Linked DNA regions of Homo sapiens: region 1 is linked to region 2. Evidence: fine-mapped expression QTL. Tissue or cell type: thyroid. Region 2 holds a variant in brackets; the other region holds the start of a gene. All regions are shown on one strand. Distances are from middle to middle. Region 1 holds the start of C1GALT1 (core 1 synthase, glycoprotein-N-acetylgalactosamine 3-beta-galactosyltransferase 1). Region 2 overlaps C1GALT1 (core 1 synthase, glycoprotein-N-acetylgalactosamine 3-beta-galactosyltransferase 1).

Region 1 (16,733 bases), 64 kb before region 2:
GTTTTCATTTCCATGTTTAGCATTTTGAGCATATTTAAGACAATTGTTTTAAAGTTTTTGTTTAGTAATTCCAATGTCTGGACTTCCTCAGGGACAGTTTCTATCCATTTATTTTGTTCCTTTGAATGAGCCATACTTTCTTGTTTCTTTGTATGCTTTGTGATTTTTGTGTGTGAGCTTGAAAAGTGGACATTTGGCTCCTATGATGTGGTAACTAGAAATTAGATTTTCTTCACTTTCCTAGGGGGGTTTGCTGTTTTCTGGTTCTTGAAGGCTGTAGCAGTCAGTTTATTTGATGCCTGTCTCAAACTATTATTTCAAAGACTGTATTCCTTGTCAATATGGTCATGGAAGACTCTGTCCCTTAGCCTGTGTTCAGCTAGTGTTTTGGCAGATTTCCTCGAATGCCAGAAGCTCTCACAGTCTTTGCAAAGTGGCTCTAAGCCAGGGCTCTACTTCAATTCTTAGTTAGCCTTGCACTGTGCTAAGGGATCAGCCCAAAATGAAAGCTTAGGGTTTTCTCAGGTGTTTTCTAAGCAAGTGTTTTGCCCTGGGCATGTGCATGGCTTTCTAAATTCCCACGTATATATGGTTGCTTTTGAATATTTTAATTTCCCAAAGAAACTCTCTCCAGATTTTGCCTTAGGCAGTCTATTGCATGTTTCAACTGTAATCTCTGCCTCCAGGTGTCTAGGGTTATTACTTCAGTTTGCTGTGTTTTCCAGCTTTTTCTGCCCTAGGTTCTGAGTTAGCAAAACAGAGGAGAGGATCTTGCATCAATCCTTCAGGTAGCCCCTTGTATTAGTCTGCTTGGGCTACTGTAACAAAATACCACAAACTGAATAGCTTAAACAACATAAATTTATTTTTCACACTTTTGGAGGCTAGCAAGTCCAAGATCCACATTCTGGCTGACTTGGTTTCTGCTGAGGGCTTTTTTTTTTCTGGTTTATAGATGATAGGCTTCTCTCTGTGTCCTTACATAATGGGGAGAGAGAACTCTTCCTCTTCTTGGAAGGGCACCAGGTCTATTGGATAAAAGGCCCTACCTTTATCCCCTCATTTTACCTTTATTACCTCTGTAAAACCCCAAAAGGATAGGGTTGGGGGGCTTTCCAAACACATAGAGGTTCCCAGAGGTTTGTATGCCTGGAGACAGCATGGAAGCTACATGCCATTTCTTCCATACCTTACATTATACATCTCTTCTATCTGGCTATTCATCTGTATCCATTATAATAAGTGAGTAAACATAGGTAAAGTATTTGCCCAAGTTCTGTGAGCCATTTCAGCAAAATGGGAATTTGTGGAAAAAGGTCGAGGAAGGAGATGCTTCTCTATGGAGGATGAATAGAAACAAGAAAAGGTATCTACTATAGGTCCACCTTTAGATTTAGAAATACAACTTGAAATAAGAAAAAAAAAATGCCACATTATGCAGCTACACAATTTGTAAGTCAATTAGTTCTTTTCAATAACAGATGCAACATATACATTTATAAATAATTTACTCCTTTGGGATTTCAAACTAAAGAAACTTCAACTATTTCACTTACAACAAATGTTTCTGCTTCTGTTTCTCATCAATTGAGAAAACAATTAAGGAACACTCCTGATTCTTATTCCAGGGAACTAGAGGAACAAAGAGTAACCCCAGGGATTCTAGCCTCGTAAGCTGAGAATATTTTTCTAGATGACACAAGTTCCTCAGTGCACACGTGACAGTCTCTGCTTTCAAGCTAATATGCTGTGAGTCACACTGAGTCCTCTTCCCTCGAGGTTAAATGTATTTCCTAGACTTTTTTTCTTTATTTCTTCCTCTGCTCTATTCTCCATCTTAACCCTATTCCTCTGTCAGTCAATTCAGAAAACAACACCAGCCATTCCAATTGTCTCAAAATCTTGGTAAATTTTGTAAAGATGTAGCTACAAGGAATAAAAACTGTTTAGAAAATGTTCTCTTAGGTTATACAGGGTGGCATTGTCAGGTATTTTCAATAGGAGACGAGAAGCTCTGTCTAAAAGCACAATGTTGCCAGAAGGATTTCCCTGATCTTTGTTTCCTGGTGTCCATTTTTCACTTACTCCCTAATTTAACATAGGAAATGAGGTGCAAGAAGCTCTGTCCCTTTCTTCCCCCTAGAGTTCTTCTTTTTCTTACTCAGGGATCATCCACAACAACAAACAGTCTGATATCTAATTAGGCCAGTAGTTTCAACTGATTTGGGCTCACAGCTGAATAGCTGAAAGCAAGAAAAAACCATACAATTAAATTAGGGACCTTGTATTTAAGGCCATTCATCCACTACATAATCAGGACTTGAGTCTCACACTAAGGCTCTGTCTTACTCATTCTAACATATTTACCTCTCAGGTTAGTCATGCCACAAAAATGTGCATTGTTAATAATTGCCTCATCTCTACCTTTGATGTTCCAGTATATAAAGCCTTCCCCTGTGTGCCCTAAGTTCTGCCCTCTGAAAGAGAAAGACATGTTTTCTGCCATTTATTTTCTTGCTATTGGGTGCAATTTTGCTCTAGGATGAACTCATAAACTCAAATAACCGGTTATATATATGTTTGTTATTAAGTTTGTTTAAGTACCTCTGTCACAACAAAGAGGAGCAGATATACTCAGCCACAGTTACAAATTAATTCATGAAAAAGAAAAAGGAGCCAGTGATAATTATGCATTCTTTTAAAAGAGTAATAAATTTTCAACAGGCTCATAAAATGAGACCTGACATATAAGCTACCATTCTGCCATACTCTTAAATCCAAACTGCTTGCTATGAATGATGCTACTATTTTATACAGTACACAGTAAAATCAGTAAATAAGTTGTCACTTCCTGAAAGGTCTCCATGGTATTCATGTAAAATACTTAATGCTTAATTGCTTAAACATCAGGTAGACCTCATCAGCCTAATTTAATTAAAAGAATGCTAATGCTTTATATGTAAAGCATATTTACATATAATCTCATTGACTGCCTTTTGGGGTACATTGGGATAATTTTCCCCAGTTAGTGGATAGGGAAATTGAGATTCAGAAGGGTTAGGTGACTTACTACAGGTCATCCAGCTAATCAGTGATAAAACTGGGGGCACTGAAAGATAAGTACCTGGATTGGGCTTACCAAAGTGGTGGCTACAAAAAGGCTGGAGCTGTGTTTAAAAGTTTACAGGAGAGCCATCCATTTTTAGTTGACTTTTTTAGGAAATGATCCAGTTTGAAAAGGAGCAAGAATGCAGGAATTCTGCAACAGAGGGCTTTGAGAGAATTTAGATCTGTAGATTCTGATCTTTGGATAGATTACATCAAAGCAGAATTGAACCGCCCCCTTGGTAGACCTGAGAAATGTAGACAGACCTGTTGGCGAGCCATGAAAATGTTGCAGAGAGAGTCATCAGAGGCATCTGTAGCTAAACATGCTATGCATCAGACTGGTCATTTGTGAAGAGAAATAATACAGCCAACTTTGTGAAATAGTATTGCAAGCCCTCTGGGCAAATTTGTATTATGAGTCAATCTGTAATTTGCTTGGAGATGGCAGACAAGATGGCTGTCTGGTTTCAAGACATGGTTTAATTTTGTGTTAACTCATTAATTTTTAAAAAATTAAAAAAAATTGATTGAGGAAAAACAACTGGGGGCAGAATTCAAGTTTCAAGGATTCCGTTGTTCTATTCACCATGTTACTTCCACAACTGGCAAAGTTTAGCTCTCAGTAAGATTCACACTACATCTCTCTATAAGAGATCAAAAAACCCTTAGATAATACAGGTGTCAGGGAGCAAAGATAATCCTAACATTGTATGCTACCTACTAAAGTGAAAAAGATATACTTCATTCAATTATTTATTCATTCAAACAACAAATAATTGAACACCTGCATGTGTGCCAGGCATTGTGCTAGGCTCTATTATATCCAGCTGTATGAGTTACCTATTGTTGTATAACAAACTATCCCAAAACTTAGTGGCTTAAAACAACAATCATTTAAACATTTAGTATCTCACTGTTTCTGTGGCCTAGGAATTCAGGAGCACCTTAGCTGAATGGTTCTGTCTCAGGGTCTCTTTCTAGGTTACAGTCAAGATGTTGACCATGATGCATGCAATCATTTGAAGGCCTGAAGGGTTGGAGGATCTGCTTCCAAGCTCACTCACATGGCTCTTGTCAGAAGGCCTCAATACCTCACCGGTTGTTGGCTAGAAGCCTTAATTACTCACCATGTGAGCCTCCTTATAAGTTGCCTGAGTGACCTTATGACTCTGACATAACAGCTACCTGGCCCCAACAAGTAATCCTAGAGAAAGAATAAAAAGTCTGGCATGTTTTATAGTCTCCCCTCAGAAGTCACATTACATCATTTCCACTACATTCTATTCATGAGAACAAGTCATTTAATACAGTCCAAACTCAAGGTGAGGGGAATGAAGTTTGACCCTTTGAAGGAAGAAGTATCAAATAATTTGTGAACATATTTTAATACTACCATATGAGTTAATAAAATTTAATACACGAAATTTAACTTAATTATTATAAACTGGTGTTAATATATTTGTAAAATGTAGGTATTTAAAGGGAAACTAAGTCTATTAAAGAAGACAATGTTTTAATGTTGTTGCTAGCTTGTTTGCATTTTCTGTCACCATTTTCACCTCATTCTGTCTATTAAAAAATTCTATATATAGTGCTAAATAAATGATGACTTGGCCTATCTTATTATGTCAACTAAGAATTGCATTTGATACTTACAACAGACAATAACAAAATCTTATATAGAAGGGATATAATCTTCCTCACCTAACAACAAATCCAGAAGTGGATAGTCCAGACCTGGTAAGTTGGCCCTCCAAAGCAACCATGGACCTAGGCACCTCTGGTGTCCTACACTATTAATAGTGTCTGTGTGGCTTTTGTTATTATGGGTGAAATATGGCTGTTCTACCTCCAGTATCATGTCCCTGTTTCAGGTTCAAAAAAAAAAAAAAAAAAGGGATGGGTGCATATCAAATGGCTAAAGCGATATTTCTTCCATAAAGCTTTCCTTGAGTCTCCTCTACAGAAATTCACTTTTATTTAATTGATGGTCACATGGCCAGCCATGACTTATGAAAGTCTAGGGGCATGAATATTTTTAACTGGCCACATTGTCACCCTGAAGAAATCAGAGTTCTACTAGTAAAGAAGAAAGGATTTTGGTTTAGACAACTAGTAATGTCTACCGACCTACTCCAACGAGTTTTGACATGCATTATTAAACACTAGACACAAGAGAAACAACAATACTGAGGTTTATGTGTGTTTCAAGTATGTTTCAAATGGGAGAATCTGGTCAGTTTTGAGTCCCACATATAAAGTATATTTTTCAAAGTAACCACAATTTTTATTCTCTAATTGAAAATGTCGAAGAATTGGCTGACATTAATGTCACTTCTAGGAATGTGTTCAAGGAGATAATTGCACAATTGTGCAAAAGCCTATGGATAAGAATGTTCATCAGAGACTTTTTTTATGGTAGTAAAAACTTGGAAACATAAATGTCAATCAATAGAATACTGGTTGGATAAATGATGGTATATCCATTTAACAGACAGTATGCAACTTTTAAAAATGATGTTATTCATGACTGTTGTTCACTGTGCAGATAATACGATCCAATTTATGAAATATTGTATTTATATGTCTATATGTGCTTTTATTCTTAGAGAGATGCCTAGAAGAATGTAACACAAAATTTAAGAAATGGTTATCTCTATATTATGGTATTTGGACAGATTTTAACTTCTTTGCATTTTTGTTTAAATTTTTTAAATTTGTTTGCATAAGCATGTATTGTTTTTATAAAACAATAGTTATTAGCTGGGTGCCACAGCCTGTGCCTGTAATCCCAACTACTGGGGAGGCTAAGGCGGGAAGATTGCTTCAGCCTTCAGCCCAGTTATTCGAGGCTGTTGTGTGCCAAGATCACACCTGTGAATAGCCACTGCATTCCAGCCTGGGCAACATAGAAAGACCATATCTCTTCAAAAAAAAAAAAAAGCTATTTTCAAAGAAAGGCAGGGTGGGGGCAGGGCTGATTTGGTCCAGTATTGTTTCTAGCAAGTAATTTTCCAGGATAAGGCTGTGGCTGACCTTATTTTAGGAAAGGGTTCTAATCTTTGCTCAATGGAAAAAAGTGTTATTCTTTATTAATTATAACTTTTAATAAAATTAAAACGAGATAAGGAGTTGTGAGTTTTGGTTTCTATTTGGAACACTGACCCCTGAAAGAGTTCTCCTTCCATGTTTCACAATGGATGGCAAGACATTGCGGAAAGGTGGAAGGATGTTGCGGAAAGGTGGAAGGATATTGCGGAAAGGTGGAAGGATATTGCGGAAAGGTGGAGGGGGAGGAGGCTGAGCAACAACTGTATACAAGTTGGGGAGGAGTAGAGAATGGACGTAATCATGTAAGGCAGAGAAGTCTGGACCCATGAGCCAAGGAAAGAGCAATAACCTGGACATCAGGATAGCTGCACTTCTCTTCTAACATGGACCTATCAGTTTATCTTTCTGGCCTTAGTTTTGTCATCTGAAAAATGAGACATCTGTATTAGAATCACTACATGTGCTTTATGTTTCACAATTCTTTTGGATATATTGATGCAATGTCCTGAGAAACTACACTACAGCTGAACCTAAGCAAATTAAAGGAAAAATAACAATAACTAATGTATATTATTATTTGTCTCAGGCATTCTAAGTAACTTGCCAATAGGTGGAGGGACCAAGATGCCAGCCCGGGCAGTCTGATTTCAGAGCCCATACTCTTTAACAACCATGCTGTAGAGTACTAAAGAACCGCTTGGATAGGGCATTTAAAGGAAGCAGGGTAGCTTTCCTATTCTGGAACGTGGTCTTGTAGATAATGGTTAACGCCAGTAAAGACTAAACCTTACCCTCACCTCATGACTATTGTGGGGTTGCCTCAACAGGTGGCAGCCTCCTCCCCCTATTCCAAAGACAACTTCCTTATTCAGAGCCCAGCGAAAGGGGAGATAGGTTTTGTTACGCCCCTAAGAAGCTCTTCCGGCCATTGCCCCACAGAACCGAAGTGCTGACAGAACCAAAGACGAAATGTGCCTATAGAAAGCTTTCTGGTATCATTATCTCGGTTCTCAGCTCTTCCTGGTTCTCACATGATGACCCAGCACCCGTATGCATACTTCATCTTATTACTTCCTTTTATTAAGCCCAGAGAGATACTGAGTAAAGAGAGCACGGGGAGAGAACAGAAAAACAAATGAACGGGTTAAGAGCAGGCTACAGGCCACAAGAGTCCTGCAGGGTTAGAGCCTGTACCTCAGACAAAGGTCCTTCAAGCATCCCCTTTCTCGCTCCCTATTGTTACCCTGCTTTCGTCCCGCTCAAGGTCTTGAAGCTAGTGCATAACCTTACAGCAGGATCAGAAATGCGGAGAGTAGCAGACACAAGCCGCAAGGGGGATACAACAAAATCTACTGCTCGTGCAAGATCCGACTTCCCAGACCCCTTCGCATTAGGGCGGAGCGTGCACCCGGCAGCCAATCCCCGCTTCCTCACGTCGCCGTATCCCCGCCCACCGCCCCTCCCGCTCCGCCCTTCCCTGGGGCTGGTGCGGCGGCGGAGACGTCAGCGCCAGGAGACTTCGGGTGGCGGCTGCGCCATAGGCGGGCCACGGCCTGGACGCGCTGCGGGGAGGGGCGGAGCGAGCGGGCGGGAGCGCGCGCTGGGCCCGCCTTGGCCGCCGCCGCTGTGCTGCCGCTGCCGGGGAATAATCTGGGCGGCAGCGGGCGGCCTCGGCTAGCGGCCACGAGCCACTTCTGCGGCTGCCCAGAGAAGCAAAGGTCACCAGTCCCAAGTCGTCCCCCTCTCCGCCCCCCAGGAGGGGCGAGAGGGAGCCGCAGCTGATGTCAGGTATGGCCGGCGGAGGCGCCCTCAGGCTACGGGTCCAAGGTCTCGTCTCCCCTCGCCCTCCCCCCTCTCCGGGTTGGTGGGGAAGCGTGGAGGATGGAACCAAACCCCGGGCGCGGCGGAACAGGTGTCTCGGGGTCAAAGCCGGGCTGGGGTCGTCCGGGCTCCTGAGGAAGGCGCGAGGACTTCCCGCTCCCGGAGCCTTAGCGATCTGCCACAGCGTTCGGCTGCGTACCCGGCCTCAATTTTGTGGACATGTACCCTCCTCTTCGTCGTGGGTCCTTCCCTTGTGCCCGCTCGCGCCCCTCTTCTGCTCGCGCGCTGCCTGGCGGCGCGGCGGGGCGCGCAGTGCGCCCGGACCGGACCACTTAGCGGTCCTGCCCCGCCGGGCCCTCCCAGTCCCTCCTCCCGGGCCCTCCCCGCCCCGCCGCAGACCTGTGGGTCCCGCCGGACTGGGCGCCCAGGTGTTGGGCACCTTCGCCGGGGAGCCACTCGGCTGCCGCGCCGCCTGAGCGCCCAGCGAGCGGGCTCCTTCCAGAGGTGCCTGGAGCTTGCTTGGGTCTAGCTTGGATCATCAGGTTTGTCTGTAGCTGATTTATTTCTTTAAGTTTCCCTGCCGCAGAGTGAAGCAGATACGTGTGTGTTGGGGCATTCGGGGCATGGAGGAGGAAGAAAGGCATTAAATTTTTTTTTTTTGCTTCTGCACCCCATTTTTCCCCAACAAATTGTGATGGAATTAGTAGGTGTTGACAAGTTGTCCATTTGCTTTGAATTTGGGTAAGTCGTACACTCTTAAAAGATGACCATAATTTAGCGCTGTGGATTTATTCTTTCCTGGTCCTTACCGTCTCCCCACCCCCCACCACCCCGCATTTAAAGCAAACAACAGTATCAGCAACAAAAAACCCACACATCCTGGAAAAATTCTCAAGATTTCTAACCTAGTTCTCTATATCCATTGTACATACTACTGTATTTCCTTTTAACGCTTTTTTAAGATAGAAAACTATTGTGCTAACCATGGATTGATTTCATTATGAATTTAAAAGTTATAAATTTAGAACCATAATGAATCAATGAATAATTGGCCGATGTGTAAGGGAGAGAAATATGTTAACTTACTAAAAGTTGGGCATAGAACATAGCTCTGCCAGGAAAAAGTGCGCATAATTTCAAGTTGCTTCATTCTGGTGTGAGTTTGGGAAGTTGGAATCCGAGTTTTTAGAAGGTATTTAGATGACAGCTTTTCACCCTCTTAGGTAAATGGCAGTTGAGCTTAATGCCCATGATGCTGTATGTTCTAAATATTGTATATAGTACACTATACTTTCTACCAGTCTTTATATATAGATGTACAGTTTAAGTGAATATAAAGTTTCAAGTTAGCAAACAGTTAACTCTTCACCTTATGGTAAGTGAAACAATGACTTAGTAAGGAAAGTATGACTCATTTAAAATTCTTCATAAAGAGAATAATTTTTCAGTATTAGTGGAGAGCTACTAAATGCCTCTCAAATTTGCCTGGAATGTGTATTTTTTTGTATCTTCCTACTTAGGATTAAGCATTTTAGAAATATTTTGTGTTTCCTATTTAAAGTTTTTCATAATTATGCTTTTTAAGACTAGACTACGTTGAGTAAATTCAATATCCAGTTATTCTTAAAATTGTATCACAAATTTATTTCAGGGTACACATAATGAGTTCTTGTTTACCTAATAGAAATATGAAAAAGTATGTCACTAGGCACATGCTACTATTTGTGTATTGATTTGTGCTAAAATTAAAATTGCATTATGCAGTTTAACATTATAAGCCATGGTAATTTAGAGTCTTTGTGTGGTAAAATCATTGATTGGAATTTTTGTGACAGTGCAGCTATAAATAAACCTTAAGTAGAAAATGGAAAGCTTGATGCTGAAATTAAATTCAGATAGGCTTAAAAGTTTAAGCTTCCCAATACAACCATCTTTTCTTTTAGAAGATTTCTTAAGATTTGATTAAAGACGCTGATGTACAAACTATAGCAAGGCTGAAAGAAAGGTATGACAAAAATCTTTTTACTTCAAATTCAGTGGGATTAAGTCATTCTTTTAAAAGAAGAAAGGTGGGGAGCGGGAAGGAGACTTGTTCCATAAAATGAGAAGTTAGCCTTTTATCTTAAAATCTGGTTAGAGAGGAACTCCAATGTGTACTTAAATTATTTTGCAGCTAATTCAAATGTCCAAGGGGAATATATATGCCAAAATCTGTAATATGTGAGAATAGGAAGAGGGAGAAAAAAAATATATAAAGAAACTGGTGTTTGTGATTTAGGGAAGCACATAAGAAGGTGGGGGAAACTGAAAGGAAAGTCTAAATAAATTATCTAGCACCTGTAGTATGTGCTGCCTTGCACATTGAAGGGGCGTGTTGGGGGCAACGAGAGGCAATATTAGGGAGATTCTGGAATGGGAAACCTGTATATTAAAGCACATTTAAACGGCTAGATGTTGGATAATAGGCAGAATTTGAAATTAAATACAGCTTGGCATAGTTATTTGCATTCTTGGTCATTGTATTTTCTAGGGCTGCGGTAACAAAATACGACAAACTGGGTGATTTAAAACAACAGATTTATTGTCTCAGTTCTGGAGGCAAGATGTCTGAAATCAAGATGTAGGTATGGCCATGCTCTCTCAAGGTTCGAGGGGAGAATCTGTTCCATGCCTCTTAGCTTGTTGTGTTACTGCCAATCCTTAGCATTTTTTGGCTTGCAGCTATGTCACTCCAGTCTGTGACTCTGTTATCACAACATAATCCCTGTGTGGCTCTGTCTTCAGATGGTGTGCTCCACTTCTTGCAAGGATACTAGTCGTATTGGATTAAGATCCACCCTAATCACCTCATCTTAACTTGATTACATCTGCAAAGACCCTATTTTGAAATAAGGTCACGTGCAGAGGTACTGGAATTAGGACTTCAACCTATCTTTTGTGGGGACACAGTTTAACCTGTAACAGTTGCACGGTTTATCTTTTACATCGTTCAGTAAATGTTTAGCATTATAGACTGAATCAGAGGCTATAGTGGAAACAGGATGGGACACTTACATTTATTTACATATATCAGTGATGTCTTAATCTGTTTTCTGTTGCCTCTAGCAGAATATCTGAAACTGGATAATCTATAAAGAAAAGAAATTTATTCCTTACAGTTAGGAAGGCTGAAAAGTCCTGGTTCAGGGGGCCACATCTGGTGAGGGCATTTGCTGGTAGGGACTCTGCAGAGTCCTGAGGATAGCACAGGGCACCACATGGTGAGGGGGCCGAGCATGCTAGCCCAGAACTCTTTCTTTCTTTCTTTCTTTCTTGTAAAGCTACCAGTTCCTTTCCCATGATAACCCATTCATGAGGGCTGAACCCTTAGTACCCAGTCACCATTTAAAGACTCCAGCTCTCAATACTGCCACAGTGGTGATTAAGGTTCAACATGAGTTTTGGAGGAGACAAACATTCAGACCACAGCAAGTGCTTACTATGTGCCAGGTCCTGGAGATAAAACAGTGGATAGGCAAAAATCTCTGTCCTCATGGAGCTTACATTCTGAAACACGGGTTCTAAAAATGTGGTCCCTGGATCTGCAGCATCATCATCACCTGGGAAGTTGTTAGAAATTGAAATTTTCAGGCTCCATCCCAGAACTCTTTATTTAACTAGCCTTCCAAATGATTCTGATGGAGACTCAGGTTTCAGAACCACTGATCAAGATGGAAAAGAGACAGTAAACAAGATGAATAAGTAAAATAATATTTGATATTAATAGGTGCTGTGGGTAAGCATAGGGTGGCCAGTGAAGACTCCTGAAAAGTAAAGACCTGAAGGAGTTGGAGAGTGAGCCATATGAGCACCTGGGTGCGTGTTCTTAGCAGAGAACAGTTAAGTGTGAAGACCCTGGCACGTTTGAGGAATGACAAGCAGTTAGTATTAGGTTCAATCTATGAAATTGCTGCTGTTTGTTCATTTTTGACCTACAAAAACACCAAATACTGGGGAGAAGAGATCAGAAAGAAAGGGGTGGAGTAGGATGCAGATTGTGGGTAGATCCTTGTAAGGTTTTGGCTCTCTAAGATTAGGAAGACGGGAGGGTTTTGAGCAAATGAGTGATGTGATCTGATTTCAGTTTTAAAAGGATCATTGTGGCTATTGGTAAAAATGGGCCAAAGAAGCAAAGGCTAAAGGAAGGGGAAAGTTGGTTAGAATGTTGTTGGAGTAGTTAAAAGACAGAGAGGTTGCTCAGACCAGGGTGATAGCAGTGGAGAAGTCAGAAGAGGTACAAGACTAAAAACGCACAGTAAATGGTTTGAAAAGTAAGTTTTTTTCATCCCACTCCAGTTACCCAGTTGTCCTCCTCAAAGGCAATTAGTGTTAAAAGTAGTCTTATCTCTATTCTTCCTGAGATTTTTTTTTTTTTGAGACGGAGTCTCACTCTGTCGCCCAGGCTGGAGTGCAGTGGCGCGATCTCAGCTCACTGCAAGCTCTGCCTCCTGGGTTCACGCCATTCTCCTGCCTCAGCCTCCCCAGTAGCTGGGACTACAGGCACCTGCCACCATGCCCAGCTAATTTCTTTTTTTTTTTGTATTTTTAGTAGAGACAGGGGAGATCTTTTATGTAAATGTGAGAAACAGTTTTAACAAATTAGTGGAGAGGTTGTTACCTGGAAACATTTAGCAATGTCTACAGACATTTTTGTTTGTCACAACTAGGGGGAATACTACTGGCATCTAGTGAGTAAAGGCCAGGGATGCTGGCTAAATATCCTACAGAGGACCGGACGGCTTCCACAACAGAGAGTTATCCAGCTCTTAATGTCAGTAGCGCCAAGGTTAAGAAACCTTAGTTTAATGGGATTTACAGAGGTTGGTGGGAAGCAAGTGTTGTAGTCAGAGAAGACAGTAGGAAGAGGAGCTGACCATATTGGGAACCTTTCAGTAACTGTAGACAGTTCAGGATTGCTGAAGCAGACATAAATTATAAGGCACAGAATAGCAAAAGACGAGGCTGGAAACCTGGACAGGCTCTAGGTCATAGCCTTTATTTATATATCATGTTAATAAAAAATGTTTAGTTTTTGTCTTGTAGGCAGTGGAGTTCCGTGAAAGGATTCATGGGGTGACATGGTCAGCTTTTCATTTTAGAGAGCTCATTCTGGTGACGGGGTATGAGTTAAAGAGGGATAGCACTTGAGTCAGAGAGGTTAGATATTGTAATAGCCTGTGGGGAGAGAGGAGAGTCTGAAATAGGATAAATACTAGAAATGGAGAGGAGACAATGGATTAGAATAATATTTAGGAAGTAATGTTGGCAAGACTTGGTAATTGGATTTGGGGTGAAGATAAGGGAAGCATTAAGAATATCTGTGTACTTTGTAGTTTAGATAATCCTGTGGCTCTGAGTGAAATAGGAACCCATTGGTGAATAATTTAGGTAATTACCAGTAATTAAGGTAAAATGAGCAGAGGAAAGTAATGAGTCACTTTGGAGGTGTTGAATTAGAGATGCCTATGGTCCAGGTGGAAGTATTTAGCAGGCATTTGTGTATGTGAATCTGAAACTTGGAGAAGTCTGAAAGGATCAAGAGATCATTTTGTTTGACAAGTGTGGAGAAATTAGTGGACTTTAATTTTTATCATATTATTTCACTCTGTAGATAAAAATTGCCTCCCTTTATTTAATTTTTATCAGAAAAGTAATGTGTGTACCCGATGCAAAATTAAAACATCAAAAGGTTATAAAATAAAAAAAAATTTGTCCTTCCTTGCTCATGCCACCCAGTGCTAGTTCCCAGAGATAGCTCTTGTTAAATATCATATGTATATATATCTTAACAGATTTTAAAATATATACAGAAACATTTAAAAAGCCAAGTGAAATCATACTAGAAAATATTTCGGTACATTGTCTTAAAAAATAAACCTTTTATCTTATACAGTTGTTAAAATGAATGACATTGTGTTATGGATAAAATAAGTGAAGGGGTAAATTAAAGTGCAGACTAACCGATAAGCATGATCTCTGATGTAAATTAAAAGCTGAACATACATATGTGATGATATAGGCATTACCCAACGATACGAAAGCAGTTACTTTTGGGGAGAGATAGTGGTAGAGATGGTAAAGAAAATTTACTCTTTTCTGTCTATGATTTTCTTTCATTTGTTTAGGTTTGTTCCTTTTGTTTTCTTTACATTTTCTGATGTTTAAAAAAATACCCAGTATACCTTATTAACAATAAAAAGTAACCTTTGTCAAAAGCACAAAGATTTTCCCTATCAGCACATGTAGATCATTGTTTTTAACAGCTACTACTATTCTATGCTATGGCTCTATCTTTTTTTTAAAAAACTGGTTCCTCATCAACAGACAGACGTCTTATGGTTATGGCTGTCGAGCATCTTGGCTGACTTCTATGATTATATCTGTAAAATAAGTTTCTGATCATGAAGTGATATATCAAGGCATAATTAGTTAAAAATTTAAAAAGATGTTGTGAAATGCCCTTCCAAAAGACAGTAAAAGTATGTATTATGAGAAAGAATACAGGACTACCAGTTTTCTTGTATCTGTGTCAATAACAGCTGTTAATAAACTTTAAAAGTTTTGCCAATATGTTAGGTTAAAAATAATATCTCTTCATTTGATTTACCTTTGTGAGTGAAATTTGAACATCGTTGACCATTTTTTACTGTGAATCTTTTATTTTCTTTATCTGTTTTTGTATTTGGTTAACTATCTTTTTTATTATTTATGATACTTTTTGGTTCTTTTTGCTGTACATTAAAAAAATATATTTCATAAAGAAATATGCCCTTTAACCAGCGACTTCATTGCCAGAAGTTTATCCAATGAATAAACTCATAGTGTTTTAATAGTCACAGCTTCTGAGTGTGGGAGAGATCTCAATTCGTAATATCAAAATGCAAAAATATATTTTCTTCCAGTTTTGTTTTAATTCCATTTTCTAAAATACTGAAATCTTAGAAACATTTGAAATTGTTACTAGAAAGTAAGGATCCAGCTGGTTTTGTTTTTTTTTCCCCAAAAGATTAATTAATTCAATACCATTTCTTCAATAAGCCACCTTTTTCTTGATTTGAAATGCTGTTTATTATGTATTAAATTTCCACATGAATTTTTGTTTTCCATAGAGTCTTTATTTCAACCTGATGAAGTCCCTTTATAAGATTCATCTGGTAGAGACCACCAGGGACACATCTGTAGGCTGACAAAGGTTAATTAGCTTGCTGCAGTGAAGGAGACTTGCACAGCAGAGGAAATGTCAGCATTTCTAAAGAAGGAACCAGGGTTATTATAGGATTTTGGAGAATGGTGGAGTTTGGATAAAGTTTAAACGCAACAATATTTGATAAGCTTAAAGCACGGCAAGACTGTGTGTCAAGGGTTAATAAACATCAGGCCTGGGCTGAGAAGCTGACTCAGGATTCTGATTCCCTGGAGACTACAAAATCGCGATACATGTGGAATGTTGTGTCTGGAAACCCCTTATCTGAAGCTCTGAGTTGCAAAGTGAGGTTGCTTCTGTTTCATAATGATCTACCATCAGTGCGAGAGTGGGATGTTCCATTCTCACTTTATAAAATTTCAAATAACATAGTTTCTGACAGTCTGATGTAGAGAACAGTTTCTCAGCACATTGTCTTTAGTATTAACAAATGCATTTTTTTAAACAGACTGAGAGTTTGTTCAGCATAAATACCAAATTGTTTTCATTACCTTTTTTAAGGTAATATATTTTTATATGTAGTAAACTTTGTCTCTTCCCCTTCCCCAGTTCCCCTTTCAAGAGTTTTCCAGTGATACTCACCTATTTTTCCAGATAACATTTAGAATAATTTTTGCCACATTAATTTTTTAAAATCTTTTTTATAACTTAAAATTGATCAGATCAGATTAGTACACCCCTTCCCACAATGCCCCTTTCCAGAATTTCCCAGTTACACCCACATGTTTATTGGTCCAAAGTTTTAGAATACTTTTTGCCAAGTTATATAATTTTTTAAAATCTTCCTGTGTTTTAGCTGGGATTACTTTACATACAGGTTAATTCGGAGGAAATCAACATCATTATCATTGATACCTTTTTTTTTCCAAACTTTTTAAAATTTTGGTAAAATACATACAAAGTTTACCATCATAATCATTTTTAAGTTTATAGATCAGTGGTATTAACTACATTTATATTGTTGTGCAACCATCACCGCTGTTTATCTCCAGAACTCTTTATTTTGTAAAACTGAAGCTCTATATCCGTTTAAACGATAGCTCTCCATTCTCACCTTTCCACAGGCCCTGGAAACCAAAAGCCTACTCTGTCTCTGATTTTTCACTACTTTAAAGTACTTCATGTAGGTGGAATTGTGCATTATTTGTCCTTTTGTGATTGGCTTATTTCATTTAGCAAAATGTCCTCAAGATTCATTCATTTTGTAGCATATATCAGAATTTCCTTACTTTTCAAGGCTGAATACTATTCCATTGTATGTAAATACATTTTGCTTGTTCATTCATCCTCAGTGAACACGTGGTTTGCTTCACATTTTAGCTCTTGTGAATACTGCTGCAATGACCATGAGTGTACAAATACTTTCTTGAAACCCTGCTCTCATTGGGTATATATCCAGAAGTGGAATTGCTGGATCATATGGTAATTCTATTTTTAATTTTTTGAGGAATTTTCATACTGTTTTCCATAGCAGAAATAACATTTTACTTTCATACCAATAGTATACAAG
Region 2 (16,170 bases):
TTTTAGTAGTAAGTGCCCTGAAGAAAAATAAGCCAAGTAAGGGGATGGAGAGTGACCCAGAGTGGGATGGAGTCCTCTGGTTTGGGTGATTAAGAAGGCCTCTCAAAGAGGTGACTTTTGAGCAGAACCCTGAGTGTTATTAGAGAGCAAGTTGGGTGAAGATCTGGGTAAAGAGCCTTCTAGTCATCAGGAGGATTTAATGGAGGTTCAGAAAGACCTAGAGTCAAATCCTGCTCTCTCACTTAATAGCCGAACAACCTTGGATGGACAGGAGCCTTGGATGACATCTGAGCTTCAGTTTCCTCATTTGTAAGATGGACATAATGTACCTGTCTTATTTAGTTGTTGTAATTACAACATAGTACAGCCCTTCACACAGTAAGCATTTAATAAGCCTTGGCTCACATTCCTGAGAATTTTATCTAAAGTGCATTATTTTAGGAAGTATTCCAGTAGTACAAATATTTCAGAATATACATTGTACTTATCCCCTGTCTTTACCAAATATTAATCTTTTTGCCACATTTGTTTCAGTTATTTAAAGAAGAAAATGCTATAGTATTGTTTTTCAGATTTTTAAATAAATATCTTTCTACAACTTGCCCTTTTCACACAACATTGAGATTTATCAATGTTAATTACATGTCTGCTGTGTTCACTATTATAAGCATTGCTTCAGTGAATAACTGAATGAGACCAGGAATCATGGAACCTAGCTTTTAGGCTCAGTTCTGTTACTAATAATGCCTTTAGGCAAGTCACTAGTTCTCTATGCCTTCTTTTCTGTGGACCTAACGTATAAATAATACACTTCATGCTACTACTGTCATCTTCATAAGGCAATGCTTTCAAATCATCATCTGGAACAGTGATTCTCAACCCAGGGCAATTTTGCCCCCAGAGGACATTTGGCAAGGTCTGGAGACATTTTTGGTTGTTACAGCTAGGAGGCTGCTACTGGCATCTAATGGGTAGAAACCCACTACATTATAAACCTACTAAATGCTAAACATCCTAAAATGCACAGGACAGCCTCCTACAACAAAGAATTACTCTAGCCCAAAATGTCAGTAGTACCATGGTTCAGAGACCCTGGCCTAGAACATCTGACCCAAGCTTTAGGTAATCAGCTTTAAAAGGAAACTTTTGATAGTCTGTTTTTCTATTTTAGTGAGAGTACTACTTTGGATGCTTTTTTGATGTAAACTTTTCTTAATATATTTTGACCATTCCAAGATGACTTGATCTTTTTTCCTTAATTCTGTATCCTTTTCCCATATAAAAAATTTACCCAAATTCAAGAATATAAACATGTAGCAAATACATCCAAATGCATATAAGATCTTACTAAGAGTATCTGATGTTGGATACACATACAGTAGTAGCAAAGGGACATCATAATTGGCAAATTTGTTCTTTCTCTAGAAATTTATCAAATTATGTTGAAGACCATAAAACAGAATTAGAATTCAGAGTACCAAAATTGACCCATCAATCTGACATTGCCTGTTCTCCCTCAGGAGATTCTTACATAAACCCAACGTGAAACTAAAATTCTATTATTATCCATCTATCATTTAGTAAGTTTTCTTCCCCCTAAATGAGTTTAAATCTTATACATACTTTTTTTTTCTATATACTAATTACTGAAAATACAGAAAATTTTTATCTAGCAAGTCAGGGTAAAAGATATTCTAATTCATGAAAGAGTTACATTCCTAAATTTCTTGTTCAGAACTGACTCTTAAGCAGTTCCCTTCCCACTCCACCTTCTTAGTAATAGACTTTTCACCAGAGAAGTTGCAGTGAGTCTTAATATGGTAGATTTAAAATATATGTGTAATTGTTTACATATATATCTCTCTACATGAAAAATTGACTTTTCTGTAGGTCAGAAATGGTCAAATATGATCTACTTTATTCAGTTTTATTTACATTATTCTATCTGAAACATATTAGTACATAAGTGAGGTAGAGAGCTCCTGATTTTTTTAAATTGTTAACTAATTATTCTACTACCATTTTTTAACTCATTACTGATTTAAAATGTCCCCCTTATCATACACTGTAACCTTACTTATAGTAGGATCTAAATCTGGGATTTCATTTCTATGCCATTGTTCTCATTTGATTTTGGCCCAGCACCATATTGTTTTGAACCTTGTAGCTTTACAGCAGTTTTAAGTTACTATTCTAAGGGCAAATTAACTCTTCTTTTTTTCTAAGTGTTTTGGCAACTCATTTCTTTATCTTTGCATACAAACTCATTAATTTAGGGACAATAACATCTTTGCCCAGGATTTTTTGTAAGTCACCTTTTAGGTCCTTTGGTCAAGTTTTATAAACTATTTCCATAGGTATGCAATATTTTTGTTACTGTTCTACTTGGGCTTTTAAAGACTTAACTTTTTACTGATATATATGAAAACTTATTTGTTTGATTTTCTTTTTAAGCATCTTTAAAATCTGGCTTTGTAACTGAATTCTCTATTTCTGATGATTCTTCACTTGAGATTCTTGAGTTTTTTTGGGTAACCATAATTGTCTGCTAGCTCTTGTTTTCTAATAATTATAGCTTTTTACTTTTATTGTCTTTTATTGCATAAATGCTTAACAGAATCCTGGCCATCCAGTAAAATATAAATAAATAAGAGCAATATAATTAATGCAGTAAATCTTATCAAAAATATTATTTTACAGAATATAAAAATTGCTTCCAGAGGTCAGCAATTTATAACTATTACTGGTCTAGTCCTTAAGTTTAATATGCACTGGACAGTATAGTAGCCACTAAGTATGTGTGGTTATTGAGCACTTGAAATGTGGCTAGTCCAAATTGAGATATGCTGTAAATAAAATACACACCTAATTTCAAGAAAGGTTTCATTAATCATCGCAAAACTATTGCATGTTAAAACAGTATGATGAACTTTTTCAGTTAAATAAAATGAAATTTCACTTTTTTTTTTTTTTTTTTACATTTTTTATGTGGCTACTATATGGCTTACATATCTGTTGGACAGAGCTAGTTTAGATAATCACAAGTTGACTTATCTGGTTATTTTTCCTATTTGCTTTTATTCTGATATTTCCTAAAGGTGCAAGAGTAGGTTGTCTAAGAATCTACATATCCAGTGTGTGTTTCAAAGGAAAGTTTAGAGATAACAGCAGAGAAAACGCAGTGGACAGTTTGATAATTTTTACACACTGTAAGCTACATACTTCCAAACATAAATTATTAGATTTATTAAATATTCAGTCAATATGAATCTTCTCTTGGAACTTGCCAGACTATCTCCCTCATTCTTTACAAAGATGTCAGATGGAGCCTGAAGTTTTGTTGGAGTCACCTGGATGACACCAACATTCTCCAGATACCAATTCTGACTCTAGGTTGACTGCTTAATTCATCTCTTTTTCTGTCTTCTTAATTTTCTTGCTTTCTTGTTCGTTGTATTGTTGTTGTTTTATTTTAAACTTTGTTCTCATACCAACCCTATTAGGAATTTATGAGAATTACATAACTGGACAAAGGTTTAAATCTGACCTACCTTAGGGCCACCTGATATGATTTTTCAGTCAATAATAGCTAACATTTATTGGGCATTTATTTTAAGCAAAGGGTAATTTACACACATTGTCTCCTTTAAATAACCACCTTTTACAAATGTGGAAATTAAAGCTTATAGAGATTAAATAACTTACTCAAGGTCGTATACTAGCCCACAAAATTTGGGTTCAAACCCAAGTCTAGGTTGAGAGCTTTGTCTCAAATACTGTACTGTTTGGGTTGATACATATATAGATGAAGTGTATTGGGTTGTAGACACCTAATGGGCAAGGCTTTGTAGTCATTGAATGCCCTAGAGGTATGTTTCCGAGTATGAGCCACACAAAAAATTACAGTGAGAAAATGAGGAAGAGAAAGCAGATGTTGGAGAAGGAGATTTCTCCTTGTATAGCTGCTCCTTTGATTTGAAGAAATCTCAGTAATTTTATCCGCTAAAGAGTGTGAGAGAATATTGTTTCATTTAAAAATACTTTCCACAGTTTCACTTGGTTTCACCAATTTCAATTGGTTTTAAATCATTAGGATGTCTAAGTAAACTATTGATTTCTTCCACAGGTCTAGTACATTAGGTTCCTCTGCTTTACCTTGCCATCTTTAATGTTTGTATTCTTTTAAAATTAGCTGGTCCTTTATAAGTATGTAAATATTGTAGCTAGCAATGTGCTGTTTATTAACAATACCTGTTTCCACTACTTTTTTAGGGTCCTGGTTGCTGCTCTGATCTTGCAGTTTCTTTTCACTATGTTGATTCTACAACCATGTATGAGTTAGAATACCTCGTTTATCATCTTCGTCCATATGGTTATTTATACAGATATCAACCTACCTTACCTGAACGTATACTAAAGGAAATTAGTCAAGCAAACAAAAATGAAGATACAAAAGTGAAGTTAGGAAATCCTTGAAAGAAAATCATGAATGAACAAAGGTAATATGTCTAGCACTGCACTGAAAAAGGACTTCTGCATTTCTGACATAGAACACTGGAATCCCAGTGAGGAATTCTAAGTGAACATTCCTTATAGAAACCTTTCACATGAATGACTATAAACTGAAGCTTTAAATGAGCTGTGAAGTGTGTTAAAATGTGTTTTGATACAGTAATATATAAATATGTCTATATATATGAGGAACTTGTGTTTTTTAAATGGTGGCCAGGTAGAGGAACTAGAAAAGAGATTTTGTTGCCTGTTTTCTGACCATCTGTGTTATTGTCACTGAGAAACTAAAATAGTAAATTTACTAAAACTACACTGCACCATGTTAGTAATAAACAGATCTGCCTTAAAGAAAAGAAAATTTTAGAAAGAAATATTGTTGCTCAGTGTTGTTAATATAGCTCAAGAATTGAGTTTATATTTGCAGTATGCTATAAATGATACCCCCCTACCACACCCACACACACAGTTTTTGTCTAATGAAAATGTTGCTGTGATTATTTATAATTGGTAGTATTTCTTCCAGAAGAAGCTAAAATAAGACTGGCACTTACCCTGAAGTGCATTAATAAAACCACACTTTAAAATTATCATGGGCCTTGACTATATTATATACTTGATTCTAATTAGTCATCTTTTACGCAATCTCTGTTGTCTCTTTTCTAAATGTGTTTAGCCACTCTTGAATACCATTCTCCACTATTAACATTAATTTACTCAAACCGTTCATAGCATTCTGTAAACATGTATTTTACATATTTGTTCCCAAATTTGCCCATTGTTCATTATGGGTAACTAATAATAAATTTAATGCTGTTTCAGGATGCTTTTCTTATAACAGTGCCACTCTCAGGAATTACTAAGTGACATTTTAAATTGATATTTTAAACTCTTTCCAACTACATAGTTATGGTTTATTTCATTCTCATCCTGTTGGGATGAGAACTTGTTTGTGCCTTTCATAACTTGTTTAAAGCAGAGTTTTAAAATTAGTTTATAGGATCTGAGGTGGCTATTAGTTACAGTGGCAAGATTATTTAGAAAGCAAGATTTTGATGAGAATTAAAAACAATAGAAAATGTAGAGTGCTTAAACAAAAATGTTATATTTTGAAAGAGTAGATACTTAATTTATAAATAACAGTCTGAAGGTTGGTGCTATTTTGGGATAATTGTTTTGCTAATGGATAATTCTAACAATGCAGAATACCTAGTCAAGACTGTCATCAAAAACATTCACAAATGTTTCATTCTATTTTTAGTGACTCTGTTTAAAGAGTTTCTGAAAGGAAAGAAATTTTTTATTTTTATTATCTTTAGCAGTACTGAGTGTCATAGCAGAATATTTTACAGACTTTCTATGAGATTATTTTTATGGTACAAAGTATTTACATTTCCCTCATGTTTATCATTATGCCAATTTTACATGGCAGTCATGCCACTGACTCTGCTATTTAGCTAAGTAATTTCTTTTTTCGGAGACTGTCTCACTCTGTCTCCCAGGCTGGACTGCAGTGGTGCGATTCTCCTGCCTCAGCCTCCCGAGTAGCGGGGATTACAGGCACGCGCTGCCACGCCCCGCCAGTTTTCATATTTTTAGTAGAGACAGGGTTTTGCCGTGTTGGCCAGGCTGGTCTTGAACTCCTGACCTCAGGTGATCCACCCACCTTGGCATCCCAAAGTGCTGGGATTACGAGCGTGAGTCACAGCACCCGGCTAAGTAATTTCTATTTATTGTGCCAAAACATGTCAAAATCATGACCTCTTTGAATGGTATATTTGAGAGGATGTTCATTTCATTGGTTAACCATGGACTACTCTGTCCACGTAGTGAAAACATGCACCAGTTTTTACCTATTATCATGGTAGTATCATCTGCCAAAATTTCAAGGCATTCATTTTATTCTTTGAACAACTCTTCACCATGGTGTGGACATGAATTTTCATATGTGTTACTTGACTAGAAGTATAAATGGTTTACTATAGATATCCAAAAACCTTGAGATTTGCTCATAGGAAATGAATATTGTGATGAATCCTGGGCTCTAGAGTCAGACTTGCTTGGGTTTAAATTCTTGCTCTAACACTTACTGTTTTTGTAACCTTGAGCAATTTTAATCTCTCTGTGTCTCAATTTCCTCATCTTTTAATTAGGGATGATAATACTACCTACCTCACAGGATTTTTATGAGGATTAAATAAATGTAAGGTTTTTAGAACATTGATAGGGAGCAATAAATAGAAGATTGTATTATTATTCTGTTACCTTGGAGTGTAAGTACTGCATTTAAGTGAATGAAAAATTTGCTTTGACCAGATACTGAAGGAAATAAGTAATAGCTAGTATTTATCCAATGCCAACTGTATGCTAGGTACTGTGCTTAGATAATCTGTGTATAATAGTGTTAATCCTCAAAATTTGGGTGTTATACCCCTATTATAGATAAGGAAACTGAGGCTCAGAGACAAAGTAACTTTGTCACTGTCACAAAGCTAGTAAGTAACAGAGGTAGGATTTATATTCAAAACCCTGTGTGTTCATTGGAACCGTATCAGGCTTGGGGCTATTCATGTAGCATTATTTCCATTTTTATGTATATGATATATGACGTCTGATGCATTGGCCAGTAATAGTCAAATTAACCCAGCCAAATTGTCACAGTGATTCTTAAACTGTGGTTCTCACACTTGCCCAGGATGTTGTTAAATGCAGATCTGAAGACCCCAATCTCAGAAATTCAAATTTAAGCATGGGGCCCAAGAGTATGCATTCTTACCAGATACCTTGGGCAGTGACTGTCAAAAGTCTGGTCCCAACAAACAGCATTAACGTCACCTGGGAACTTGTTGGAAATGCAGCCTCTCTCGGGGCCTCATCTCAGATCAGATCTACTAAATCAGATACTCTAGGGGCAGGGGCAGGGGCAGGGGCTAGCAGTTGTGTTTAAGCAAACTCTGCAGGTGTCTTTCTTATCCTAGTTTGAGAACCAATACCCAACAACCTACGTGATTTTGGTGCAAGTAGTGTTTGAAACACACTGAAGATTACTGCCC[A/T]ATTACTAAGACATTTTTCAAAAAGCATGTTTTAAATCAGTGTAGTCCAGGATCACACTATATTAAATATAAAGATAACTTAAAGGATCATTGGATCATTCATTTTGGCCAAATTTTTAGCTTCTCCAAAGTGACTAACATCAGGGCCTACAATAAAATCTGTAATTCTCCAAGTTTAGTAATTTTATATTGAGGCAGGAAGGGCTCATTAAGTACTAATAAGTACATAATTTATTAAAAACATACATAAGTGTCATCAAAAAGGTCCACAATTGTTAGTAAAAAAAATTAAATTGAAGTAGTAAATGCTGTTTTATAACATACATTTTTCTGCTAATTCATTCTGTTTTGTGTGACCTAATAAAGCAAAAGAAAAATAAAAAAGCAATTCTCCAAGTACTTCATAGAGCACATAAAACCAGATTTCATGATGATGATGTATTCACTATCTTTTAGATTAAGATCTTTGTTATTTGGTAAATGATTTCAGTATGGTTTTAAAACATAAGGCTTTTGATGTCTTATGTTCTCTAATAATGGTATGCTTGTATTTTCTAGTGGGAAGTTCATAGATAAAGCAGATTTTTGTCCCAGTTTGCTTTCAAATATAAATTTCAGAGGGCTTTTTCTTACTGTAATGAGGTATGAAAATAAATCATTGATCAGCTCTTAATATTTTTTGAATACAGAATTGGATTTGAGCAGTAAATTTGCTAACTGGTTATTTTCACAATTTTCTTGAATATTAATTTTTCACTTCTTTGAGACTGTCAAACTATAGTTACTACCAGGTTGATGCACTGTACTTGAAAGAATCCCTTGATTAAATTACATCTAGCATTTTATTTGCCATTTCAATTTTCAGTTCATTAGACTATAATTCTTTGACAGTTTCTGCCTGGTGTTTATTGCCCTTCTTTGTTTGCTTTATTACTAACTTCCATTTTCTAGTTACTCTTAAATGCTGCCTTCACAAGGTTAATTTGGCTGTTAATAGTGATTAGAATTTTTATCACTTAATTGATAATTTTAAGCCTACTAACTAGGGTTCCCTATGAAATTGAAAGTAAAAGTCTAAGAATAATGCCTGCTGGCTCTCGAGATACTTGCCCTACTTAAAAATCTATAATTTAAAATTAATTCTATGTCTACAATTATTAAAGGAAGTAAAGTTATTTGGGTTCTTCCACTCACCCTTTTCTCAAAAACAACAACAAAAAACAAAACTCATTTTATTTTTCTACTTTATAGTAGGCCTGACAGAAACATAGTGAAGCAATCTGGGAGGCAACCTGTGGTAGATTTTATGCTAAATGTTAATGTAACCTCTGTTGATTTTTTAAAAATGTGTTTATATATAAGATTTGAAATAAAAACTTTAATACAGGCTAGAATAAGGAATTTTACAAATTCTCTTTAGAGCAACCAACATTAAAGTTTTAGAGTTGAATTTTGCTCTATTTCAACTCCCTTACCTCTCTAGTTTTCAGTTTATATTAAGTTTTAATAACTTTGCGGGGCCCTGCAAATTAATAATCTACATGAAGTATATTATTAGAGGGAAACTAATCTTACTGCTAAGCAGTGTGTTGTACTACATAGTGAATGTTCGTGTTTTGGAATTTAAAAATTATTTAAGGTAATGGTGTTACGAATGGTTTAAAAATGTCTGGTGACTTGCTTATTTTTAAGTGATCACCATTAAGTCAGAAAAATGTATTTTTAAATGTTTCTTGAAGTGCCTTTTGAACATTTTTAAACAGCGGATTTAAATAATGCATAAAATAAATTGCCATGTTCAAAGTTGTTTCATCTGATTATTTTTAACCAATATAAAAGTTGTGAGATAAATGTTGTCTTTTATGGGTAGTTTGGGGTTATTTTTCCAAAAGTTTAAAATTGTTTTCCCATCAAAGCTATTTAGTTTGAATTGGCTTTCATAAGTTTTACTGCAATATATGTATTATTTACTTTAAAGCAACAAAATATTCCACCTCTGACTGAGAATAATATACTGTAAAAAAATTAGAAACACTGTAGTCTAGGTAAGTGTGTCTAGATGGGTGGGGGTGGAAGAGGGGAGAGAATCTCATATATTTAGAGAGAGATTGCTTCTGTGCTCCTTGGTATATTTTGATCTATCTCATACACTGAGAAATTAGTTTATTCAACAAATACTTATGCCAGGCATCTGCTAGAAATACAGTGGTGAGCAAGACATACAGGATGTCTTAATTCTAGAGTTAGAAAATAAGCTAGTAGATGAATAAACAAAGTATTTCATAGAGTGGTATTAGGAAAATAAAAATATTATCAGAACAATTTTCTGGATGGGGTATTAAGGAAGACTAGGAAGTAACATTTGAGCAGAGACTTGAATGTTGAATAACAGACATTTTATATACTTCAGAAGTTACTTTTATCTATGAAATTATTTGCTCCAACTATGTGTTAAAAAAAAAAAAACTTTCCACCCTTGCTTAATCATGCTGTAGGTGTAAGTGAAGGCTTACTGAAATGTACACTATAGGCTAAAAAACTTTGTGTTTTTAGGCATACTTCATCCAGAGCTCAGGTGTATTGATAGATTTGTCTGGGAGTTTCAGAATATGAATAAAAATAGACCTAGTATTTTATCTCTTTCTGGGCAAACAGTTACAAATTCCATAAGGCCCTTGAGTCTAGCCTATATGTCTTGATTTTTCAGTAATCTGCTACCCAGTATGTTATTAGCATGTGTGTGTGCACACGCAAGCATGCATACACACTGTTATTTGGATTAGACAGCTTTAGAAAAGCTGAGGAGATAAATACCACTTCATACTACTTTAGTAGTAGAGTTGTATAATTTAACATATTCAGACAGCTAAATATTTTCCAACCAGCTGTACTGATAATTGTTAAGTCATTGGAAAGTAGATATATTTACCTAAATATATACAATTAAACCTATTTTAAGTTTTCCAAAGGTATGACTTCATAGTACTGGAAAGCATACAAGAAGATTCTTGCTGAATTTATCTCCTTGTTAAAGGGAAGTACTCTACAGAGCTCAACATAGTGGTCGTCTTAAAGTCTAATAATGCTGACAATATGGATTGTTCAAGGGAAATTTTTTTAGTGGTTAAGAATGAACTAACATTTAACTACTAAAGTTGAATGAGTTCAGCAACATTGGCATTCTCCAGATGCATCTGTATTAGTAAAACAGAAGTGAACTTTGTTTTGCCATGAGTTTATTACTAATTAACGCATTTTGTATTGCTGCCTAGAACTTAAAACTGTCTCTGTGTTGCATTTCTTCTACAAAATGTGCTAGTGTTTCTTGTATTATTATCAATATTGCTTTTCTCCAGGACTGAAAATTTGTCCAGGGCATTATATACTTTCTTATATATTGCCCCTGTATAGTGCAGGTTAATACAACAGCTTACTTTGAAATAACAAAATACTCATATTTTAAAAAATGAGATTCAATCCTAGAACTTAGGCTCTTTGGCTTTTCTAATGAATGCCTAGTGAAAGATTAACAGTACTTCATTTCTAGAACTGCCGAATGATGTGCTATCGTAGAACTAATTTGGGTACAGTGTCTTCATTTTTACAACTAATCAGTTTTTGACTTTCATAAGCTTCAATTTTTTTTCATAGAACTACCTAAACTGCATTGTCTCCCCTTCTATACCTCTAACAGTTCATTCTTATTAATTTTCTTGTCTAATTGTTAGATTGTGGAAAGGTGGTGATAAAATCCAGAACATAGGTTTGGAAGAGAAGTAATATGCAACTTTTCCTTTAGTTCTACACATGACTCTCTTCCTTGTTTTTATACTTTTTGGTGGGGTGTGGGTAGGTGAGTGTGGGTATGTATATGTCAGAGACAAAGAAAAAGGATGGTTATGATTATATTTTAATAACTGGATTTTTAATGTAATTGAAGTATTAAAACCACTGCATTTTCATGTTGATTAGGTTTATATAATAAGTGGTTTATTTGATGAAGTGAAGGTAACTATGTGTTTAGAATAATTGGCCACAGATATAATTCCTGATTTTTAAAGTAATTTTTACAAACCTACTTGCCTGACGGAATTTCTCTCTTTTTTGGCCTTTGAATTTATAGCTCTTGGAACCTTCTCCTACTCATCTCTCATTCCATGTTTTTTTCTTTTACCCTTTCTTTTTCTTCTGATTGGCAGCAGCAAGTCTTTAGTTTCTTAAGACTTTTTATTGCCCCCATTCTTTTTTTTTTTTTTTAAGTAGGGACAGGGTCATATTGTGTTGCCCAGGCTGGTCTTTAAACAGTTTGGCCTCCCAGAGTGTTGGGATTATATGCATGAGCCACCATGCCCGGCTGCCTCTATTTTCTATCAAAATGGATGTGTTTAAGACTTTTTAAAAAATTGTGTATCTTTTGTGAACCTCAGTTCCCTCTCACCAGCCTAGAAGTTGCTGAAAGAAAGAAGAGATAGCACTCAAAGAATCGATGCCCACATTATCCTGCAGTTTCCTCTTTCTTAAGGAAATGTTTCCTTCTAGAACCTACTCAGTGAAAATATGGGTGCTTAAATACCTGAAAACCAGTGGGGAGAAAAACTTAATCTTTATAGATAAAAGATTTCAGTGTTCAGTATTAAGGCAGTCCTCTCTCACATCTTAAAAATGGTCACTATGACCTGTTGAATAAAATGAATATAACCTCAGATTATGTGACCTTCCACAGCCTGACCTAGCATGTATTCCCTTTTTAAAAAATTGCTATTCCTTACCTAAACGCCAGACAATTTAGCTCCAAATCATTTAACCAACATTTGAGTGCCTACTAAAAGTATTGAGCTAGATAATAGGGATAAAGTGGCAAATTATATTTGTTGCTGTCAAGGAACTCACCTTCTATTAGAAGCAAAGTACCCAAAAAAGTAGTTGTGTGCAGTAGAGTTATACTCTCAGGCAGTGTGCTAATTGTTTTACATTGCATTATCCCATGTAATTCTTACTACAATCCTGGTGGATGGATTATACTATCCACTGTTTCAGGCTTCTACTGGGGATCTTGGTATGTATCCCCCCGTGGTTAAGGGGGAACTACTGTATTTTGTTAACCTCCAGCACTTTACACAAAAGGGGAACTGAAAGTACCAGATGCTACATAGAAGAAAGAATGGAGTGTGTGAAGCAAGAGACTCTTCTCGAAAGGGGCCAATTTAAATCATTTCATTTCCATATGCAGCCATAACCATGTAAAAACTTCCATCCACATCATTCAATGGCTTTTATACTCTTAATTCATATTGCTAAGAAAACTTCTGGCTTATTCTTCTTGTTAAAGTTTATGAAGTGTCCTGATATGGAGGGGGGAAAATGCCATTTCTATGACATAAGCCCATTAACCCACCCAAGTTGTCAGAATCAAGAGGAGGTGTTTGAGAAATTGTTTCCTCTTTTTAAACATTTAACATTTTTCTTTTGTGTTAGTTTTTCTTCAAAACGTACAAAAAAGTACGCATCATTGTATCTTGTGTATTTACTACCAGCTTTTACTAGATAAGTCATCTTTCCATTGAAAAAGTGATAAGCTCCATTATTTTAAAAAAAACTTAAACATTCATTGCAGATGACCATTTCAAAGATGAAAATTTTTAAAGGACCCCAAACCCCACCACCCCCCAAAGTAATTCCAATTAATGCATAAATATAAATTGGATAGGAAGCTAAATAGATAGAAATGGTTTTATTAAAGTGAGATCGTGTAACAAATGCTAATTTTAACATTATAATTTCAAAAAAATACAGTTGCTCTTGATGTGGCCAAAATCTGCAAATTGTCCTGGGGGCAGGGAGAGGGGAATGTCATCTTAGCAGCAACAAAATTGAGTGATTTCTTTGGGAGGGGGAGATGGAGAGAGGAAGAACGGACTGGACTTAGGCTTCTCTGTAGCAACATTCAGTGCTAAAGCAGAGTGAAGCAAACTCTACCAGATTCTTGGGGGAGGAAGAAGCCAAGTGATTTCAAATGGAAGGGTAAATTGAAAGAGTGAGGGTGGACACTTCTTGAAAAATCTAGATGATGAAGCCCATCTAAAGAGATAAATGGACAAACATTGAGAACAGGACTGGTGGTGGTTAATTATTTAACTATGTAGCTATAGAATTATTTAAATAAGGCTATGGAAGCATATTGAAATGTTATAAATCTTGATATAGAAAAGATGATTAACAAGTTAGAAAATAGAATATCAAAGACGAGGTAATATATACATGCCCTAATTGGTTTTACTTTTCAGAATAGAAATTTTGTAAAATTGATAATATATCAAGAAATAGGGATGTAATATTCTGAATAGTTATGAAGGTAATCACCAAAACTGTAAGCCTGATAACTATTAAAATGAAAACACAAAATTAAAGATAACACAGGCCATATAAGAGAGCTAAAGGGAGAATTTACAATAGATGACAGAATTAAGACCAAACATAGATATGATGTCAAATAAGGAAAAATATGATTTAACTTATAAATGTATGAATATACAAAAACTGTTGGCAGTACCTTTGGGGAAGGGTACTAGGATTGGAAAGAAATTCAATAATTCACTGTTTTCCTTTTTGAACTTTTAAAAAATCATGTTTATACTGTCACAGTTTAGAGAAGTAAAGTGGGAAAAAAAAGCTGTTGGCCCTGGCTCCCTAGGGTTTTTACAACCAGTGGTGAAGAATGTCCACAGACATTCTTAAGCAGCAGTAGAGGTAAGCAGGTACACACATGAGCTGGAAAGATCTCAAAGCTGATTTGGATTCTTTTATCTTGCCATAAGAAATTACTTTCTTCAATCAAGGGTATAAAGACTGCTGAACTAGTTCATAATGAGGGTAGATGAAGGAGGTATCCATCTTCAAGAGTGGTAAATAGTTGACCCATACAAAGGACCAGCAGCCTCATGTGGACCCGTCTTAGCATCCTTCTCTCCTTCTACTCCAAGGGTGAAGAGTACTCGGAAGTTACTATTTATTCTCAAATCCTTGTGTCAGATTATTTTCATATCTTTCTTAGATCTGTTCTGGCTTAAGTCTTATTCTCTTATTCATGGAAATAGAAGACACTGAGCCCTTTCCCACATAAAAATATAGGACTACTGATTTCTAGAGCTTAAAGATGTTCTAACGCCTCGTTTGAAAGATTCAGAAACAGATCTAGAGATGTTAAAGTTTAGAAAAATGACACAAATAATGCCAGAAGTGGCAACAGAACTCAATTTTCCTGACTCCCAGGTTAGTGGTCTTTGTACTAAATGCAATTTCTTATCTTCCCTGAACAACCTGAGCTATGTACTTTAACAAAATTTTTTGTGGGTACATAGTAGGTGTACGTATTTATAGGGTTCATGAGACACTTTGATACAGCCATGCAACAAGTAATAATCACATCATAGAAAATGGAGTATCCATCCCCTCAAATATTTATCCTTTGTGTTACAAACAATCCAATTATACTCTTTTAGTTATTTTTAAATACACAATTAAATTATTGACTATAGTCACCCTATTGTGCTATCAAATACTAGATCTTATTCATTCTTTCTGTTTTTCTTTGACCCATTGTACTGCTAGATAGAACTCACATATTTGGTCCCTGCCTTTTCCCACCATTTGCAAATAGATTCTAGGAACGATCCTAATAGTTGCCAGGCACTGTTATCAGAGATCAAATCTGTCTTGTTTCCAATTGTGCCTGGGACATAATAGGATTTTTTTTTTTAAATAACAAAGCCATGTGTAGTGCTGCATGCCTGTTGTCCTAGCTACCCAGAAGGCTGAAGCTCAGGAGTTCAAGTCCACCCTGGGCAACAAGACTCCATCTCCACAACAAAAAAGTTTAAAAAGGTTACTATACGATTACTATACATTGTATGTATCAAAATATTACTCTCTCCCCCATAAATATGTACATTATATATCAATTAAAAGGAAGTAAATGGTGAGCATCCTTTCACTATGAAGAAAAGTTCTCCATATGCCCCCTACTTTCTTCTGTTTCATTTTTATGGAGACCTCTAAACAAAATGCTTTTCTCATAGATATGGAGGGACTCCTAAACAGGTTTTCTGCTTGAGAAAATCTTGATTTGAACTCCACGTATCATACACCATCAGGCAAAAAACCTCGCATTTACGTTGGAGAATACAGTCCAGAAAAAGAACAAAACCTCAAGTGTGGGCAGAAGATTGTGTGTATTTGCTATTAGGGAGGAGAGCTCAGGTTCCTTTTCTCTACAGTGACCATTAGACATTCCAAAGCACTGTCACTTGGTGTAGCTCAGTGCTCTTGGTTACTGAAGCAACAAGTGATCTCTGATGACAAAACAAAGGTAGGGTCGTGCCTAACACTGGTAAGGAGAAAACTGTGTCGAGTTAGTTAATAATTAATTTACATGTCAAGTTACAAGTTTTCTATCCTAAAATCCAAAAAAAGCAACAGCTCTTTTTTTTCCTCCAGTCATTAAATCACCCATTCAACAAACTTTCACCAGGCTCATGGTTTGTCAGCTATAGAAGAGAAAGGAGGGCGAAACCTGTGGTTAAGGCTTGCCTGAAGGATCTCACATTTGGGT

What was found.
Region 1: it holds the start of C1GALT1, and the variant in region 2 is fine-mapped to the expression of C1GALT1 in thyroid (GTEx, PIP above 0.99). The same link has a PIP of 0.9 or more in adrenal gland, aorta, atrial appendage, cerebellar hemisphere, cerebellum and cerebral cortex.

Annotation. Positions count from the first base shown.
Region 1 is chr7:7,174,874-7,191,606 of GRCh38, forward strand. C1GALT1 (core 1 synthase, glycoprotein-N-acetylgalactosamine 3-beta-galactosyltransferase 1) reads left to right here and starts at 7,671. Exons shown (of 4, transcript NM_020156.5): 1 at 7,671-7,947. RefSeq lists silencers at 7,411-8,020, 8,241-8,460.
Region 2 is chr7:7,239,252-7,255,421 of GRCh38, forward strand. C1GALT1 (core 1 synthase, glycoprotein-N-acetylgalactosamine 3-beta-galactosyltransferase 1) reads left to right here. Exons shown (of 4, transcript NM_020156.5): 4 at 4,273-9,365. The coding sequence ends at 4,476. It overlaps LINC03016 (long intergenic non-protein coding RNA 3016), which reads left to right and starts at 15,903. Exons shown (of 4, transcript NR_108073.1): 1 at 15,903-15,927. The variant A/T (reference allele first, on the strand shown) is at 7,563.